Linked DNA regions of Homo sapiens: region 1 is linked to region 2. The links come from fine-mapping of genetic effects on gene expression. A gene starts in region 2. The other region holds a variant in brackets. All regions are shown on one strand. Distances are between the middles of the regions. Region 1 overlaps MFHAS1 (multifunctional ROCO family signaling regulator 1). Region 2 holds the start of MFHAS1 (multifunctional ROCO family signaling regulator 1).

What was found. PIP is the estimated chance that this variant, and not a neighbour inherited with it, causes the effect.
Region 1: its variant is fine-mapped to the expression of MFHAS1 in whole blood (INTERVAL, PIP above 0.99).

What each region holds. Positions count from the first base shown.
Region 1 is chr8:8,856,665-8,861,051 of GRCh38, forward strand. The region is part of intron 1 of MFHAS1 (multifunctional ROCO family signaling regulator 1); the gene reads right to left. Among named protein-coding and RNA genes, the nearest start is that of MFHAS1, 35 kb to the right of the region's middle. RefSeq lists an enhancer at 3,762-3,971. The variant G/T (reference allele first, on the strand shown) is at 1,992.
Region 2 is chr8:8,892,077-8,896,389 of GRCh38, forward strand. It overlaps MFHAS1 (multifunctional ROCO family signaling regulator 1), which reads right to left and starts at 1,554. Exons shown (of 3, transcript NM_004225.3): 1 at 1-1,554. The coding sequence starts at 982. It also overlaps the pseudogene RNU6-682P. RefSeq lists an enhancer at 1-935 and silencers at 780-1,049, 1,160-1,439, 1,450-1,699.

The DNA.
Region 1 (4,387 bases), 35 kb before region 2:
ATGAAATTGGTCTTTTATTCCTAGCCTATTCATCTTTGCATCTTTCCCAGCACAGAGCATCCCCATGGCACTCAGCAGACCCCCATGATGTCTGGTCAATTAATGAGTTAATGGATGGTTTCAAGCCCATGAGCCAGATTCCTGTCACCGGCATGTATCAGTTTATTGCTGCACACGGGAAACCTTGCAGCCACAGGGCTTTGTTTATACACTGCCCTAGAAGCCACTAGGATTCTCTAGATCAGAAAGAGAAATATATTCTAGTTCTCATCTTTCAAACTGGCTCAAAACCTGACACTTTCACATCAGGAAAGTGAAAAAAAAAAAAAAAAAAAAAAAAAAAAGAGGAGAGATACCGAAAGAGCCAGGCTGTTCATAATTTTGTTTTGGAGGCAGTGCAGAAGAAAACATCCTAGAGAGGCACTGCCAAATTCTAAAAAGAGTCTTAGAATGCCAAAAACAGATTCAGTCCCTTAAGCAAAGTGGAAGGGAAAAAAGAAGCCTATCAATTCAAAGCAATAAAGATTTAAACAGAAAGTTCATGAGACATCAATAAATTCCGCGTGTGGCCCTATTGTTTAGTTACTAAACTGCCAATGCAACTTTCAGTGGTTAACCAACACAGCACAAGTTTGCTCCTAATTTAATATCCCTTTCAGATTTCTGATTCCATAATGAGATATCTTCCAGGCCAAAATATGCCAAATTTTTCTACCCTGAAACAAACCTGTGAATTTTCTGGGCTTAGGTCCTTTCTTTTTTCCTCCATTCAGCCACTGAAATAATAAGAATTCTAATTAAAAATGAGTTCAGGCCCGGCGCGGTGTCTAACGCCTGTAATCCCAGCACTTTGGGAGTCCCAGGCAGGTGGATCACAAGGTCAGGAGCTCGAGACCAGCCTGGCCAATATTGTGAAACCCCGTCTCTACCAAAAAATATATAAAAATTAGCCAGGCATGGTGGCGGGTGCCTGTAGTCTCAGCTACTCAGGAGGCTAAGGCAGGAGAATCGCTTGAACCCGGGAGGCAGAGGTTGCAGTGAGCCAAGATCGCACCAAGGCACTCTAGCCTGGGCAACAGAGCAAGACTCCGTCTCAAAAAAAAAACAAAAAAAAATCTTTTGTTTGTAAACTCAGTAGATATATAACTGTCCTACAGTGACATTGACAAGTTAACTTTTAAAATACCTAAAGCAAGTTTCCCTGTAGAGTTGGGCAAATTCCATATGCTGACTGCCCACTTGTTGATACATTTTGCTATCAGGAACCCAACACCACCAATTTTGGGGAAACCTTTTTCTAAACAAATGAGAAAATCCAAGATGATTCAAATAGCTGAGCTGAACAAAACAAAATGCTCTGAGACAATGACTGGTGTTCACTGATCTGGGTCATTTGCCTGCCTCCACGCCTGACAGCCTTTGACCTATCCCAAAGCAACAGCCATCTGTCTAGTATCTGAACAGAAATTGGGACGGAGCACAGGGGGTATACAAGGCAGGGAGTAGTTAAGAAGCCAGCAAGGGAAGGAAGGAAATTGTTTAGTAAGTGCCCACTACATGCCAAGCATTGTCTTAGGCATTTTTATATGCATTATTTTATTCAGTCCTTACAAGAGCTGTATGACATAAATTTTGCTTTTTTAAAACTAAGCAAGTCTCAGATGTCTCCATGTCATCAAAATCTAAATATATAACATTATTACCCTTTGAAAATTCTAATAAATGAAAGAAAATTTAAATTTAATATTTAAAATTATATTAAATGGCCCATCCAGTTTTGGAGCCTAGGAAGGGTTCAACAAGAGTGATTTATTTTACTAAGACCTAGAGCAACAGATGAGACCTATGTTACTGAAAACGATTATGCAATGCTATAATTACAACTATATTAAAAATATGCCTTTTGGGGGATACTCTCTTCATTGTGGCGATGGCCTCACAGGTAAAAAACAAAAATAGACAGTCCTCCCTCGGTATATATATGGGGGGTT[G/T]GGTTCTAGGGCCCCCATCCCCAGCACACCAAAATCTATGCATAAAGTCCTGAAGTTGGCCCTCGGGACCTGCATATGAGATGAGCCAGCCCTCCGTATGCACAGGTGGCGTCGAGGTGGACCCAAGCAGTTCAAATCTATGTTGTTCAAGGATCAACTACACTCATGATTCAGACCAAAATAGAAATAAACAAAGTGAAAATATCCGTAACAACAAGGATAAAGCATTCTCAGTCAAAAAAGACTATATAGAGGAACACAAGCCAGATATCTGTTTTATATTTCTCAACATATTTTCTGCACAATACCAGCTCCAGCGGATGTTACTTCTTACATATGCACACACATACACACACACATAAAGATTCTTCAGTCAATAAGTTTGAAAAATGCTTGGTTAAACAAAGCTCACCACGGCTGGTAGTGATGGCTCATGCCTGTAATCCCAAAACTTTGGGAGGCTGAGATGCAAGGATCACTTGAGGTCAGGAGTTCGAGACCAGCCTGGCCAACATGGCGAAACCCCGTCTCTACAAAAATTACATGGGTGTAGTGGCACACGCCTGTAGTCCCAGCCACCTGGGAGGCTGAGGCAGGAGAATCACTTGAACCCAGGAGGTGGAAGTTGTAGTGAGCCAAGATCACACCACTGCACTCTAGCCTGGGTGACAGAGCAAGACTCTGTGCCCCTCACACCAAAAAAAAAAGTTCACCATGTTTCCTAACTGTGGAACTTCTCAGAGGCCTTCTCATACACTAAGATACTTGGTGCTATTCAAAGACAGCTTAATAAAATACAGTTGATCGTTTAACAACACGGGTGTGAACTGTGCTGGTCTACTTATATGACAGTTTTCTTCCACCCCTACCATGCCTGAGACAGCAAGACCAACCCCTCCTCTTCTTCCTCCTCCTCAGTCTACTCAATTTTAACATGACAAGGATGAAGACCTTCACCGATGATTTACTTCCATTTAAGGAACAGTAAATATATTTCCTCTTCCTTACGGTTTTCTCAGTAACATTTTCTTTGCTCTAGTTTACTATATTGTAAGAATATAGTATCTAATATCTATAATGTACAAAATATGTGCTATTGACTGTTAATGCTATCAGTAAGACTTCCAGTCAACAGTAGGCTATTAGTAGTTAAATTCTGCAAAGTCAAAAGTTAGATGTTCAACTGAATGGGGGGTCGGTGCCCCCAATGCCTGCATTGTTCAAGGGTCAACTGTATTTTTTACTAATTTTAAGTGATATCTGGTATTAATCCCATTTTCAGTTAAGTGGCAGTTCAAACAAATTAAAATAACTTACCCATCAGGACTGCATACCTTAGGTGGAGGATTTAGGATCTGAAACACATTTGGCTGGCTCCAAAGCCTGTATTCTCTCCCATTGTCCCACAGTGCCACAAAAAAAATGGAAATAATTAATTTGGGTCTGCCTGCTCCCTCTCAGGGCTGCAAATCCTTCATCAAGAGTCAAGGTACGGTCAGAGGGAGCACACGCAGGCCTGAGATTCCACAGAAAGAGCACAGAACAAAAGATGGAAACCCATCCCACTCACACGACAGCCCTTCTTGGGTACACTCTCTTTGGTGGCAGATGCCCAAAGATAACAGACTGTGCTACGCGTCAACAATCTCATCTGACTGCTAGGTTAGGTCCATTCCATGTAAAAATAACAACAACCCCTGCCTTCTCAGTCCCCTGTACTTAATTATTAGAAAAAGAGAAGGAGAAAATACGCCAGTTAGGAAACTTCAAGAACGCCCTCTGTTCCTTTCCATTTTGCTGGCATGCATCTCTACTAGAAGCCTGAGAAAATAAGGCATCAAGGTGACCAACCTACATACACTTGTACCGGATTCTCTAGAATGTGTCTTCAGGAATTCCCCGGGGCTCTTCCTGTGGTGCTGAGAGTGGCTCTGCCACCATCACAGCAAACAGGAGGCTTAAGGATGAAGTGACAGCCGCTTTCCCAAATGAAATGCCATAACATCACCCAGACCGCCTCACTTAGGACTGAGGGCTCCACGCATTCAAGCAATAACTAAAGGAGAATCAGTGTGAGGTCATCCACTGAGTCATGCCAAACTACAAGACCTTTTTTTCTCTTGAAAAAGGGTGAGAGAGATGTTTGCTCTTGGCAGACAGTTCTAATTTTCATGCAAATTAAATCATTGGTCTCGTTTCCATTTCTTCTGGGCTCATACGCATACATATTTATGTATACATACGTATACAAACCCACAACCACTTATTTCATCACTATGAAAGCCCAAATACCTTATTATAATCACTGCAATGGACATGACAAGAACTGGGAGTTCTATTTCACAGTCCCTATTAGCGATTATGACAGAAAGTCTACACGTGCCTTTTAATTTCAT
Region 2 (4,313 bases):
TATCCAGCCACAAGGTGAGAAGCCGGCCCAGGCCCGAGATAAGGGATGGCACCGAGGTGAGCTGGTTGCGACTAAGGTAGAGCTCCTCCAGACCAGCCAGGGGCAGCAGCGCGGCAGGGAACTCCTCGAAGAGGTTGGAGGAGAGGTTGAGCATTTTGAGCCGCTGCAGGCAGCTGAACTGGGCGGGCAGAGCCTGCAGCCCGTTGTTGTCTAGCATGAGGCTCTCCAAACTGGCCAGCTCGCAGAAGCCGGCGGGCAGCGTGCCAAGCTCGGCCCCACTCAGCCAGAGGATCTTGAGGGCACGCAGGGCACTGATATCCTCAGGCAGGCCCCGCAGCCGGTTGCTGGACACGTCCAGCTCCTCCAGGGCCACCAGCTGCAGCAGCTGCCGGGGGAAGGCAGTGAGCTGGTTGTGATCCACGTCCAGGGTGCGCAGGCGGGAGAGGCAGGAGAGGGAGTCAGGCAGGTGCGCCAGCCGGTTAAAGCTGACATCCAGCTCCTCCAGGTGAGCGAGAGCGCCCAGCTGGGCGGGCAGGGCGGGCAGCTGGTTGTGGCTGAGGTTGAGCTTCCGCAGCTCCCTCAGAGCACTCACCACCTCCGCGCCCAGGGCGGTCAGCCGGTTGTGGCTCACGTCCAGCTCGGTGAGGTGGTGGCCGAGCTCGGCCACCGCCGGGGGCAGCCGGGCGAAGCGGTTCCTGCGCAGGACCAGGACGCGCAGGCTGCCCAGCGCCGACCCCAGCCCCTCGGGTACCTCCTCCAGGCCGTTGTTCCCCAGGTTCAGTGCCTCAATGTCCCCGAGGTTGGCCGGCAGCACGAGCTGGGGGGAGGCGGGGGACTCGAGCGCGTCGGCCCCGGCCCCGGGGCAGGCCCCGGCGGCGGTAAGCGTGAGCTGGCGCAGGTTGCTCCGCAGCTTCCTGGCACGCAGGGCGGCGTCCCGCCACAGCCTCGCGGTCTTCAGGTTGCCACTGTCCATCCCAGCCATGGCGGGGCCCCGGGCCGACAGCCTCACGCGGACGCGGGAGCCCGCAGCTACATGCCGCGCCGCGCCCCGGGCCCTCCGGCTCCTGCCCCTGCCTGCCCTCCCGCGCTCGGCGGCCGGCGGCCGCGGGTCCTAGCGCAGCCAGCGGCCGAGCGCTGGCGGCTAGGGGGCGGCGGCGACGCGAGCGGCTCCGGGGGACGCCGAGCGCGTGGAGAGCAGCTTGCATTCTCCCTGCGGCCGGGCCATGGGCGCGCCGGGCAGCAGGGCCGCCGCCCGCGCGCCGCGGAGGATGCCTGCTCCTCCTCCCTCTCCGCCCGCCGCGCGGCGCCTCGGGGGGCCCGGCTCCGGCCCCGCTACCCTCGCAGCCGCGGTCCCGCGGCCGGCAGCGGCGTCGCCTCCTCGAGCTCCTGGGGGAGGGCGGCGCTCGGCCCGGCGGCGGGCATGCTGCGGGCGCAGGGCTGGGGCGCAGCCGCGGGGAGGGGGCGGCGGCGCCTCCTTGTCTCCGTTTCCCCGGGCTCGGGCGGGAGCGCGGGCGCCGCGTCCCCGGCGCTGGGAGGGCGCGATTGGGAAGCGGCAGCGCCGCCCGCCGGAGCGGCCCCCACGTGACCGGCGGAGGCGCCGCGTTTTCCCGGCACCGCCCCGGGGGCGGGAGCTGCGGAGGGCGCCGGGTGCGGGGCCGGGGGCGCCTGGCGCGGGGCCGGGTCCGCGCCCCGGACCATGCTGGGCGGGGAGGTCGTCCCAGCGGCGGATGTGGGGCTCCGGGGCCCCCCTGGTGGGTTCGCCCGCGCCTGGCTCTTTGTTGGCCCCCAGTCTCTAAGGATTTCTTTTTCTTGTTCTCTAATGCGTCGGATCCGCCGGCTTCCCTTACTCATCCTTTACCTGCTCCCCTGCCGCTCGCCTTGCATCCACGCCGTAGTGGAACTGGCACAACTCGGGGGCCCTGGGTATCATCATAGAAGCTTAGGACAAGAGTGTGGTTAAACAAAATTAGAACAGGCAACCATTCATTCATTTGGTAAATATTTCCTGAGGCCCTATTTCGTGTTGAACATGGGACAGGAGTAATGCAGGCTGGTCAGAGGAGAATAAAAAATACCAGGCAGCAGTTTCACTTGACTGGAGGCTATGGGCTGATAAGACCCTGAAAACCAGGGTGTGTACCAAGCTGGCTAAGACCGGCTGGACCCGACGTGGTCCTGGATTTGACCTAGGTTTCTCCTAGGCCTCCATTATACGCTCTTTAACATCCTAAGTCACACCAGTGCCATGACAATTCCGGGGACACCCATATTTGAAGTAAAAATGGGTGGCACCACAGTCCCGAAAAATCTCCACACTTTTCCAGGAATTTTCATGAATATTTCACCCCTTGGTTAAAGAAACCCATAAAGGTAGCAGCCCCAAGCCCCGTTGTGAGTGACCCTCTCCACAATCCCTTTTCCTGGGTGTGTACTTTTCCCTTTGCAATAAATCTGCATATTGTCACTATTTTCTGAGTTGTCCTTGAACTCATTCTCTGGATGTGTCAAGAGCCTGGACATTGGCTGGGGTCAAGGTCGCACTGGCTTTAGAGGATCTCCCCCAGCCCACCCGTACCAGAACTACTAAAAGACGGTTTTAACCCCCCTGGGGAAGGCTTTTGAGCAGGTGGCCCGCCAGCCTAAAGGAGGGTTGTTAAGATGGGGGGGACACAAGCTGTTTATCTGGGGTATCCCGTTTATCTTCACAACAACGCTGTGAAACAAATACTGTATCCCCATTAATACAGTACCTGTTGTTCTGCGGACTCAAGAAAACAGCTATTTTGGGAAACAGTCACAGTCCATTGTTCAACTCTAATGCTTATTTTTATTGCTGTTAGGAAATGTTTCTTTGAGCTCACATCTATGCTAAGTCAATAATTTCTCCCGAACTTATGAAAGTCTGGAAACCTACCAAGACTCCCAGTGTCACCTCCATCATTCCCTTCAGGTTGATTGATAAGGAAGCAAATAGTTTTCAGGGACCGAAAACTGCGTTCAGTTGGTTAAAGGCATCACTTGACCCACTGCAGCTCTCCCCGACATGCGCTATGGCTGTCATTTGGGGACCCATATTTGGTGCAGTAACGTGAGAAGTGTGTGTTTCCAAAAAGAGCACCTGAACATCTGAGGCTGGAAATCCACCCCAGTGATGGTTATCAGGCTGCAGGTAGTACATGCTGTAACTGGAGGATGTTCCCCAGTTCTGCTGGGTCCCTGAGGCTCTGACACCACAGATGAAATGTGAGTAAGTGAACAGCAAGAGCTGATCTGTGTTCACTCTGAAGGACTTCCGAGAGTTCAGATGGCTCAGGGTAGCCCCACCCACACTCCCTCCCAGAGACAGTCAATTTTACAACAAATATTCTGAGTTATCTAGGCTGACCCTTTTTTTCCCCCACAGAGGAGGAAATGGGCTCAAAGTAAGTGACTTCTCAATCAGCCATCAAAGTAGAGTAGAGGCAGGACTGCTAACTCCCCGTGTGGAATGTATTCCCCTGTGATCATCACCTGTACTCACACTGTTCTTGAGCCAGACCCCAAATTCTCCATCCTGCAGCTTCTTCTAACAAAAATATGAACTCAGCCTGGGTAAGGAGACTGGAGTAGGCATCACCATCCTACACCACCTTACATGATTATATCTCAATAACTGCTAACTGTTCCTCTTTAGAAGCCATCAGAAAATTATACTTCCTCCTGCAGAAGCTGAAATCAATTGAAAAAAATGAAAATTGTGCTTGCTTCAGCAGCACATATACTAAAATTGGAAAAATACAGAGAGGATTAGCATGGCCCTGCACAAAGATGACATGCAAATTCATGGTGTTCATTTATTTAATAATATTTTCATTTAAAAAATTATTTTAAAAAAGAAAAATGGCCGGACATGGCATCTCATGCCTGTAATCTCAGCACTTTGGGAGGCCGAGGTGGTGGATCAGTTGAGGTTAGGAGCTCAAGACCAGCCTGGCCAACATGTCAAAACCCCATCTCTACTAAAAATACAAAAATTAGCCAGGCATAGTGGTGCGCACCTTTAGTCCCCAGCTACTCAGGAGGCTGAGGCACGAGAGTTGCTCGAAACCAGAAGGCGGAGGTTGCAGTCAGCCAAGATCACACCACTGCACTCCAGCCTGGGTGACAGAGTGAGACTTTTTCTCTGAAGAAAATTATATTTTCCTTTCTTTTCTTTCTTTCTTTTTTTTTTTTTTTTCTGGAGATGGGGGTCTTGCTTTGTTGCCCATGCTGGACTCGAACTCCTGGGCTCAAGCAGTCTTTTTGCCTGAGCCTCCTGAGTAGCTGGGATTATA